2 separate regions of the Homo sapiens genome follow, and region 2 is linked to region 1. The links come from fine-mapping of genetic effects on gene expression. A gene starts in region 1. The other region holds a variant in brackets. All regions are shown on one strand. Distances are between the middles of the regions. Region 1 holds the start of TRIM9 (tripartite motif containing 9). Region 2 has its middle 24 kb from the start of PYGL.

Region 1 (5,376 bases):
TACCCATCCTAATTACCTTGTGGCTCTAAATTCTTTTTCCTGACAGAGTGATTAATTTTTTAGTTCCAAGGATACTTTGTAGGGCAATTCAACATGGACTATAATTAGCAGTTTAAAAGTGAAATCAAAATATGAATAAAAAACTAGCTGTGAACTCAAGTTTTGAAAACTTTCAAAATTAAATGTCATTTTCAAAAATTTAAATTCGACTGTTCTGAAAACAGTGGTGTGTGCCCAGTTAGGCTTCAATTTGTGCTAAATGAAATCCCCATCAGTACTAATATGATTTAATAGGTTATATGTGAGAATAGAATGACTGTAAACATGGATCACATTCAACCGGGTTAAGGAGTTGAGAAAACTTTCACTGATTGCTGAAAATTAATGACATTTTTTTCTTGCTGTAAACAAAATATCAATGTTCCAGCCTTAACTCCACAGTTGGCCACTTGCAAAAGCTACCCTTTCTAGTCTCCAAGGAATTCTGGGAGACTCTGAGCAAGGCCACAGCTGAGGCCTGGACACTATCTTCACTGCTCCATCTCATCCTTGGGTATGCAACTCAGTGATGTAAAGAAAAGCTCCTTCCAACCATCCTGAATCCCTGCCCTGCACTCCACAGCCCCAACTAAATGGATCATTTAAAAAATGAAAAGCAAATTCATGCACATCTCCTCAAGAGTTGCTCCCTTCCTTCTAAGCAGTGTGGGCATATTATAAGGATCTTCTTCCTCATGAGGCTTATTTCGTTTATGTCTGTGTGTGTACAGGGAGCAATAGATAAATACAAAAAATAACATAATTAAAATATATAGCATGCCACACAGGGATAAATACTACTGAGGAAAATAAAGCTGAGAGGGAACTAGCGGGTGTCTGGGTGGGTGGCGCTGCAAAGATGATACCTGAGCAAAGAGCTGAAGGATGCAGGTAAGTGACCCATTCGGATCTCAGGTAACTGGGGAAGAGAGCTTCAGGCTGAATGAACACCAAATGCAAAGGCCCTGGAGTAGGGAGGTGCCTGGCGTCGTTTGAGGAACAGTAAGAAGCAGTGTGGCTGGAGCAGAGGGAGTAAGTGGGAGGCAATGAGGTCGAAGGGGCCAAAATGGAAGAGGTCATGTAGGACAGGCTGAGAAGCGTGGGAAAAATTGGAGGGTTTTGAGCAGAGGAGTGGCACGACAGAATATGTTGCTAAAGCCTCTTCGTGTCTAGCCATGGTGGAAATATCATCAAAAGAGACTGGAAAGATAAATCTGGTAACAGGTGTCCCAAAGTTTGCACATATAACTACTGAAAGAGGAAAGGGCTTGAATTCCGGAGAAGTGGGTGTGTGTATAGTTGGGAGGAGAAGGTTTCCCTAGGAGATGCACCTGTCTGGCTTCCAGGCCGCGACTGCGCAAACTCCGGTCCTGACACTCTAGTCTCAGGTCCCAACTCCGGAAGGGTTCAGGCCCAAGCCTGCACGTCGCGTTGCCATGGCGACCGCTGGCTGCCCTCTCCGCTCTGTCTTTTGAGCACGTGGCACCAGGACCCCGCGTTCTCTCCAGCTCGAGAGCCAGGTCTGGCCCAGAGCCGGGCTCATCAGTATTCCGCCTGCGGCGTCTCCCCGACCCTCCGCCGTGCCTCACCAGGTCCGCCTATCCAGCAGCGACAGACTCCCGCCGTCCGCGCGACCCCACCGCCCCCATCCCAGTCCCTCCCCGAGGGTTCGCAGCCCGCCCTGCCCTCGAGCGTGCCTAGCGGCCCTGGGCACTGGCGCGGCTCTACCCAGCTATGCAGTGCTTTCCCACACACTGGCCGCGGCCACTGGCTGCAGACCCGCCGCGGAAAGGGGGCGCCCTGAGTCCCGCTCGCAGGCAGCGCGCCCCGAGAGACCCGCTCTAAGGCATCCCCGCAACAACTCTGTGGGGGCATTCAACTCCCCCGTGCGCCGGTTAAGATTCCCCCATGCCTCCTGCAATGCACCAGACCAGGGAGGTAAACATCGAAGGCACCTGCATTGCGCCCCCACTGGGATGCGCTGTGCGCAAGAGACGGGGACCGTCTGCTGCAAAACCGGATGATCGGAGACGCAGGGAGTTAGGAGTGGGTTTTCTTAGGACTCACCTTATGTAGTTTCCACATGGCCCCCAGAGCCTTGACTTCGTGGCTGGAGTGTTTGCCCTCCTCCAAGCACTGGTAGCACACGGGCATCTTGCATTGCACGCAGTACATGCTGTGGTTCTCCAGCTCGTGGTCTGTGCAGGTGGAGACCTTGCGTGGGCTCAGCCTCCGGCTCACACGACCCTGGGCCGGGGGCACCAGGCGGTGCTTGGCTAGGGGCCCCCGGGGCGGGTGGCAGCGCAGGCGGCACGGATCGCAGTAGAAGACATCGCACTGTTCGCACATGACGGTGGCTTCCTTGGGCGCCTTCTCGCAGAGCTGGCACTTGAGGGCCGCGGCTTTGCTCTGCTGGTAGCGGTCAATTACCCCTTCCAGTACGCGATTCTTGGGGAAGCCGCGGAGCCCCCGGTCATCCAGGATGAGGCTGCGGTGACACTGGGGGCAGGTGATACAGGAGTTGCGGGGCACCGGGGCCAGGGCCGGTGACAAGTGGGTGGCCGGTGGCGGCATAGCCGGGGGAAACACGCGGACGCCGTTGGGGGACTTCTGGCACGGGGTAGTGGGGGCGCTGGCGAACCCCCCGTAGGAGCCATAGCCGCTGTCCGCCTCGCTGTATAGGCTCATCTTGTCCAGGTCCAGATAGTCATAGTCGGAGACCCCGGAGCCCGCGGCCCGATGGCTCTGGGGGGATTCAGACTCTGGGGTCTGCACCAGGATGTTGCGGGCGCACGCCTGACACAAATTGTGAGAGCAGGGCAGGATGATGGGCTCCCGATAGAAGGAGCCGCACACGGGGCATTTCAACTCCTCTTCCATCTCCTCCATGGGGACCGGTCTGGGAGGAGACAGCGACGGCTGCAGCGGGTGCCTGAGCTGGCGAGGTGGCCGACGGGCCCGTCTTGTCCAGCACCCTGGCCAGCGGCGGCGGCTGTGGTGGTGGTGCCTTCCCGCGCAGCACTGGCACGGACACCCAGAGAGGCGCTAGCTCTGTGAGCCGCAGCCGCGTAGCCGCCGCGCCGCGCGCCAGCCCGGACCGCCCCTACCTGCCCTCCTAGTCCCGCCCCGGCCCATGAGCAGCGGCCCATTGGGCGGGGGGCAAGAGATCGAAGCTCTCATTGGCCACCAGACCCGTCCGTCTCCTCGTCTCCGCAGGCCACAGGGGGTTCGGTAGAGTCTGAGGATAGGGCAGTCTTCGCTCGCGGCTGCAAGATCTCTGAAGGGGGCCGGCGTGCGGAGGCTAGGGGACCGGGAAGGAGGAGTTAGGCGGGATGATTCATCCTCGCCCGGCTTACTTCCGACCTCCGGTGCAGTCTCCCAGGAGCTGGGGGCGTGAGAAACCCCTCCCCGCAGCGAGTGGGCTGCCGGAGGGGGCTGGGGCTTCTCGCCAGCGTTTGCGTTTGGCTCCCAGCTCTGAGCTCCGCGCCCACCTACCGCGGGCGAGTGCTGCGCAGCACGGAGGACGCCCCTTCTCTTCCGCTGCTGGCAGCCTTCGCAGGCGTCTCACCCGGGCCTAGGCTTCTGCACGGCAGTGGGGCTTTTCTCCTTCTCCGTGAATCCGCTGACGCCGTGCCCTGGAGCTCCCCCATCCCGGGAGTCTGACGGCGCTGGCGCAAGCCCTGGCGACACTCTTGGCTTCTTTCATCCTGCGTCCCTCGTTTCCTAAAGAGCATGTATAAAGTCGATTTCCTAGTGTCGACATGAGATTCAACTGGGTAACCGATGGAAATGGTCAGCATTAGTCAGAATCTATGACCCCTTCGTTTCATGCTTTAAATTATAGCTCGGCCCAGAGGCCTCAGTGCCGTGGTGTGAACGTGCTTCCTTCCACGGATCCTTCTTCCTCCTCGCGGCCTCCCAAAGCACCTGGCTGAGCTTTTTCGAGGCCCGCTGGGCCTTTGGTTCGGTTGAGGCAAGAACAGTTTGTCTATTTCTGAGTGCCCGTAGTTTAGTAAAGCTCTGTAAATGAATCACTGTGTGACTGCGGAGTCTCAGTGTTTCACTCCAAACAGCATTATTCAACCCCACGTGCCCTGGGCATCTGCCATAGCTTACAGCATCGTGTGCCTTTCTGTTTCTTCCAACGAGGGGCATGGTGAGGCGGTGATTCTAGTGTTAGTCCCTGTACAAGGAGGGAGGGAGGGAGGGAAGAAGGGAAAGAGGGAGAGAGGGAGGAAGGAAGGGGGGGGGAAAGGAAAGGCGGAAGGAAGGGAAGAAAGGGAGGGAGGAAGAAGAAAAGGAAAGGAAAATCTTTGAGTCAAGTGACATTCTGAGGTAGTAACATTTGAAATAGTACATAGCCGGCTTTTGCTGAATGATTCATGAAGTAAAGGACAAAAACTCTTTGCAAGTTCTAGAAATATTCCAATTTTCCACCTTCCAGACAGGAGATAACTTGATTATATGCAGCTATGTTGATAATTTAAAAGTACTTTATTGTCCAGAAAAAAAATGGACATTTTATTACACTGCCCTTGTAGAAATTGTCCAATAAACTAGGTTATCTTTTCAACATCTTTAGTTGCAGTGAGAACAGTAGTTGATCATTGTGTGGGGGAATAAAGTCCCCATTGTTATTTAAAGCCATGTTAATCATAAATGTGACGTGATTTATTTTTAAGCTGGCTTTCAACTAGTTGAGACCAGAGCATCCAAAGGTATATGCACTCTGTTTACAGACATAGATAAAATTTCTTCAGGTATGGTTGGGACATTAGCTGCACTTGCAGGATACACTTAATTTATAGGTCCCAAGAGAAATTACTAATAATTATATTCAATATAGTATTAATTGAATTGTAATGAAAGTTAATTATTGAGAAAATATTAGAAAGGAGTGTCCTTTTATGGCTTTTGTATGCATTTGACCACAAGTCACAATATCTTGGACCAGCAAGGTGAGCAGCTGTTACACTTTGTATGAGTTTGAACTCTGCTTATAATAGTATATCATCTAAGAGATCTTATTAGCAGAAAGTTTATGCTTAGTTCAAAGTAAAGAAGAATTTTAGAGGATGTCTCATGGTGTAATGCAGTGTTGGGTTCGCAAAAAGAACAACACAGGTTTATAATATAGTCAATATAGAAAGATTTGGTCTATTATGAAGTCGCTTGAGATGATTTCATTGTTAGATCTGTTTGTTTAGGAATTAGCTAAATCAGTCAATCCTAGGAGAGCTCTTAAAATGACTCATTTGTTGAGAGTTCACCCTGTTCCAAACAGGGGATTTATTTATTTGTATACATTACTTGGTTAAATCCCTGTAATTACAAGAA
Region 2 (5,376 bases), 130 kb before region 1:
GATACAAGCAAAACCAGACACCATCTTTCTGGAATTAAATCTTGAGCAGTGAGACAATAAAATGAGGATGAGCTGGAGCTTTTGCGCCCCCTTGGCAGTCTCTGATAAGACCCGATATTCATCAGTTCCTGCTACCTTGATCCCCAGAGCTGCCCTCGTTCCCATCTTTCTGAGCTGCCCCATGTCTTTCTCGCATATTCCTTCTATGCCTTTAGGTCAGCCACAGTCAGGTTGGGTGTTTTTGTAGCCAAAGATTCCTATCTGGCACACCTGCCTGGCAGGGCCTCCCTGCAGTGGTCCCTCAGTGTCTGCGGGGGCATTGGTTCCAGGACCTCCCTGAGATACTGAAATTCACAGATACTCAAGTCCCTGATATAAAATGGTGTAGCATTTTCATATAACCTCAGCAGGCTGGGCTCTCCACCCTCCTTCCTCTCACTGCATGCACCTCACCCTCACTAACTCTTTGACTTACTGGGCTTGTTCCCGCCTCAAGGCCTTTACCCCTTCCCTTGGTCTTGGCTTCTTCAACCCAAATATAACCCCTTCAGAGAGGTAATTGCTGACTTTTCCATATCTCTCTATCTCATAGCCTGTTGGATTTCCTGTGTTGTATTTATTAAGACTTAAAATGATTTTGATCTTTACTTATTATTTCCCTATTTGAATATCAGCTCTAAGAACGTAGGGACCTTGTCTATTTTATTCACTGGTATTCCCAGTAATAGCATTGTTACAACAGCATTTATCACTTAATAGGTGCTCATTAAATATTAATCGTATGAATGAGTGTGTTGTCTGTGGTACATCCTATGTGTAGCAATCATATGTCATATAACCTACAGGTTAAGAGCCTGTGTCTTGGAGTCAGACTATTTGGGTTCAAACCCTGGCTGTCATACTTGTATACTGTGTGACTTTGGGCAAGTTGCTTAACCTCTTGTGCTTCAGTTTCTTCATTTCTAAAATGGTAATAATAAAAATGCATAAGTAAGATGAAGGGTAAGTAAGATGATTCACTAAAAGCCCTTGGTACATTGCCTGGAAAACAATAAGATTCAATATTTGGCAACTTACATTATTAGAGCACGGTTGTCTCTCCATATCCGTGAAGCCTTGGTTTCAGGACACCCCTGGGATACCAAAATTCACAGATAGTTAAGTCTCTGATATAAAATGGTGTAGCATTTGCATGTAACATATGCAAATCCTCCTATATACTTTAAATCTCTAGATTACTTATAATACCTAATGCAATGTAAATGCTTTGTAAATAGTTGTTATGCTGTATTCCTTTTATTTGTATTATTTTTCTTGTTTTTTTAATTTCCTTCCCAGCATTTTCAACCCAAGCTTGTTTCAATGCACCCATGTGGAACCTGCGGATATGATGAGTGATTGGATTTCTCAATTGTAAGAAGTTCTAGTTAGAGATTGTATGATGCACTACTGGCTTAATAGTAGCTCTTTTGGCCGGGCATGGTGGCTCACGCCTGTAATCCCAGAACTTTGGGAGACCGAGGCAGGCGGATCACCTGAGGTCAAGAGTTCAAGACCAGCCTGGCCAACATGGTGAAACCCCGTCTCTACTAAAAATACAAAAATTAGCCTGGCATGGTGGCGTGTGCCTGTAGTCCCAGCTACTCAGGAGGCTGAGGCAGGATAATTGCTTGGACCCGGGAGGTGGAGGTTGCAGTGAGCCAAGATCGCACCACTGCACTTCAGCCTGGGCAATAAGAGTGAAACTCTGTCTCAAAAAAAAAAAAAAAAAAAAATGGAACTGTTTTGGAGAAAACCAAAGCCAAGTTCAACATTTAATATATACCACTTGGGAAAACTCTACTTACAATAGCATGCATTATCTGCCACAATACATGCTACTTTGCTCTTCAGACTAACAAACACAATTCGGTCCCCAAGTACCTCTGTATCAAGCAGGGCCACTGGCAGTTATACGTAATGTAATGATTACCCTTGCACGAGATCTGGACCTTGCTAGCATATTTGTGAGGCTGCAGAATAATTTAAAGAATGCAGTGGGATTATGTGTGTGTTTTTTTCTTTCTTTCTTTTCTTTTTTTTTTTTTTTTTGCATTTCTCTTTTGGCTATTTTGTTTGTATTGCTACTGTTAACTGAATTATAAATAATAGGAAATAAAGAGCTTCTGGGAAGTAGCTGGAAGCTTTTGACAGATTTAGACATCTGAATGATAGCTCTTCACATATCAGTTGGTCCCAAAAACTTTTCCTAGATTTCAAAAATTTGTGATTTGTTCTCAGCATCTTGACAATTTTATTAATTATATTATCCAGTGTATGACTATTTCAATTGTATATTATCCAGTGAATGATTATTAATTTTATGCATGTACAATATATTTTTTCATTTCTATACTGCATTATAATGGGATCTTTTAAAAGACCTTTTAAGTGATAATTAAGATGTGAATTTAAGTTTATCAACTTTCAAAGGAAATAACAAGTAACAGAATGATGAAATTGTTAGCTGGTGTAATGCCTCTGTGACATAGCTGAATTTCTGCTCTGCCCTAACACTGCTTTAAGAAACAGGATGCCTGCAATAAAAAGTTCCCTTTGTAACCGGAACAGTTGAGACTGGTTAGAACCAAAATAGCTGAGCAAATGA[C/A]TTCAGAAAGAACTCGGGCTTCATTATAATCTCATTTCCATGCTAAATGACACTCTGACCATCACCATAACAGTGGACAATTGCTAGGACAATGACCAGAAGAAGCTATAAAAGGACAAAAAAGGAGGAAGGCATCACTCCAGTTCTGGGAAGTTCACTGACCCTTTCCAGAAAAGACCTGAGTCTTCCTCTTTTCATTTTCCTTTCTTTTTTTTTTTGAGACAGAGTCTTGCTCTGTTACCCAGGCTGGAGTGCAGTGGTGCCATCTGGGCTCCCTGCAACCTCCGCCTCCCAGGTTCAAGTGATTCTTCTACCTCAGCCTCCCAAGTAGCTGGGATTACAGGTGCGTGCCACCACACCCAGCTAATTTTTGTGTTTTTAGTAGAGAAGGGGTTTCACCATATTGGCCAGGCTGGTCTTGAACTCCTGACCTCGTGATCCATCCACCTTGGCCTCCCAAAGTGCTGGGATTACAGGTGTGAGCCACCGTGCCCGGCCCCTCTTTTCATTTTTAATGTCCATCCTCTTCGTTAGAGAAACTCTTTATTTGCACCCCTCACCCCTCACTGGTCAAGAAGTTGATTTGTGAGCCATGCTTCCACTTCTTAATTCCATGGCCATTGAATAAAGCCTGCTCTACTTGACAATTTTAGTTTTGTGTATTGGCTTCATGACACTGAACATGGAAAGACTTCATGTTTTGAGGGATCCACTTTGTTGGTTATAAGATGATGCCCCCCATCTTATTGTTTTTCCAAATGTGTAGGCAATAAAAACTTTGCTGAGTATACACTACCCACTCATTCCTTACCTCTGGGCTGTCAGCTCTAGACACACATTAGAATCACCTTACAAATTCCAGATTCTCAGGCTGCATCTTAGACCAACTAAATTAGTAACCTGGCATCAGTATTCTTTCTTTCTTTATTTTTTTTTGAGACGGAATCTCGCTCTGTCGTCTAGGCTGGAGTGCGGTGGCGCGATCTCGGCTCACTGCAAGCTCCGCCTCCCGGGTTCACGCCATTCTCCTGCCTCAGCCTCCGGAGTAGCTGGGACTACAGGTGCCCGCCACCACGCCCGGCTAATTTTTTTTGTATTTTTAGTAGAGACAGGGTTTCACTGTGTTAGCCAGGATGGTCTCGATCTCCTGACCTCGTGATCCGCCCTCCTCGGCCTCCCAAAGTGCTGGGATAACAGGCGTGAGCCACCGCACCCGGCAGCATCAGTATTCTTAAAGTTCCCCAGATGATTTCAGTGTGCAGTGGAGGCTGAGAACCACCACTCTATCAATGGCTGAAGAGTGTCTTTCTTTCTTTTTTTTTTTTTCTGCGACAGAGTCTCGCTTTGTCACCAGGCTGGAGTGCAGTGGCACAATCTCAGCTCACTGCAATCTCCACCTCCCGGATTCAAGCGATTCTCCCGCCTCAGCCTTCTGAGTAGCTGGGATTACAGGCATGCACCATCACACTCGGCTAATTTTTGTATTTTTAGTAGAGACGGGGGGTTTCACCATGTTGGCTAGGCTGGTCTCGAACTCCTGACCTCAAGTGATCCACCCGCCTTGGCCTCCCAAAGTGCTGAGATTACAGGCGTGAGCCACCACCGCTCCCAGCCTAAAGAGTTTCTTTTGACATGTGTTGTAAGATGTGTCTTGATTTGAGAGATGTTAAGGTGTAAAAAACAAAACAAAAAAACCAGCTGGGTCTGGTGGTTCACGCCTTTAATCCCAGCATTTTGGAAGCCCGAGGCAGGAAGATCCCTTGAGACCAGGAGTTCAAGACCAGACTGGGCAACATAGCAAGATTCCATCCCTACAAAAAATTTTAAAATTAGCCAGTAGTGGTGGTATGTGCCTGTAGTCCCAGCTGCTCAAGAGGCTGAGTCAGGAGGATCCCTTGAGCCCAGAAGTTTGAGGCTGCAGTGAACTATGATCATGCCACTGCGTGCCAACCTGAGTGACAATGTGAGACCTTGTCTCTCAAAACAGAAACACAAAACACAACCCTTGCATCTGAGAAATAAGAAAATTGTAATTGCTATTATTAGTCTAGCCCTAGAAGGATTCAGACCATGAAAAATATCATATTGGGTCAGATCAATTTTGTGGGACAACTGATGTTCCTTAGTTGTTCTCCTTTTACAGTGTCTTTGACATTGTTTACTAGGAGTGCACCCCATGTATTATAAAGCTTCCTTTGGTTACTGCCAGACACCTGGCAAGAGCTTAGAAATGAAGCTTGATGCATAAAGGAAAAAAAAAAGGAAAAAAGGGAAACAAAACAAAAAGCATGGTGTGTGATGCGTGTGAATCTCCTGGTCACTGGGTGCACCCTTGTATCCTGTACTCTTTTGGGCCCCTGATTTCACATCCCAACTCCCCTTGGAGTTTGAGGTCAGCCTGACCAACATGGAGAAAACCCGTCCCTACTAAAAATGCAAAATTAGCTGGGCTTGGTGGCACATGCCTGTAGTCCCAGCTACTTGGGAGGCTGAAGCAGGAGAATCGCTTGAACCTGGGAGACAGAGGTTGCGGTGAACCGAGATCATGCCATTACACTCCAGCCTGGGCAACAAGAGCGAAACTGCGTCTCAAAAAAAAAAAATAGACTCAGTGTTTCATCTGATTCCTTGGGATTCTCGCTTTCCCCATCCCTAAGGCAAGGAGAGCAGATGCTCAGATTCTCTTAATATCAAAGCAAAGTGTCCCCTTAGCTAGGATGATAGCTAGC

The links.
Region 2: its variant is fine-mapped to the expression of TRIM9 in whole blood (TOPMed, PIP above 0.99).

Annotation. Positions count from the first base shown.
Region 1 is chr14:51,092,012-51,097,387 of GRCh38, forward strand. It overlaps TRIM9 (tripartite motif containing 9), which reads right to left and starts at 3,094. Exons shown (of 13, transcript NM_001387360.1): 1 at 2,107-3,094. The coding sequence starts at 2,928. RefSeq lists a silencer at 3,086-3,155.
Region 2 is chr14:50,965,334-50,970,709 of GRCh38, forward strand. No RefSeq gene overlaps it. Among named protein-coding and RNA genes, the nearest start is that of PYGL, 24 kb to the left of the region's middle. The variant C/A (reference allele first, on the strand shown) is at 2,648.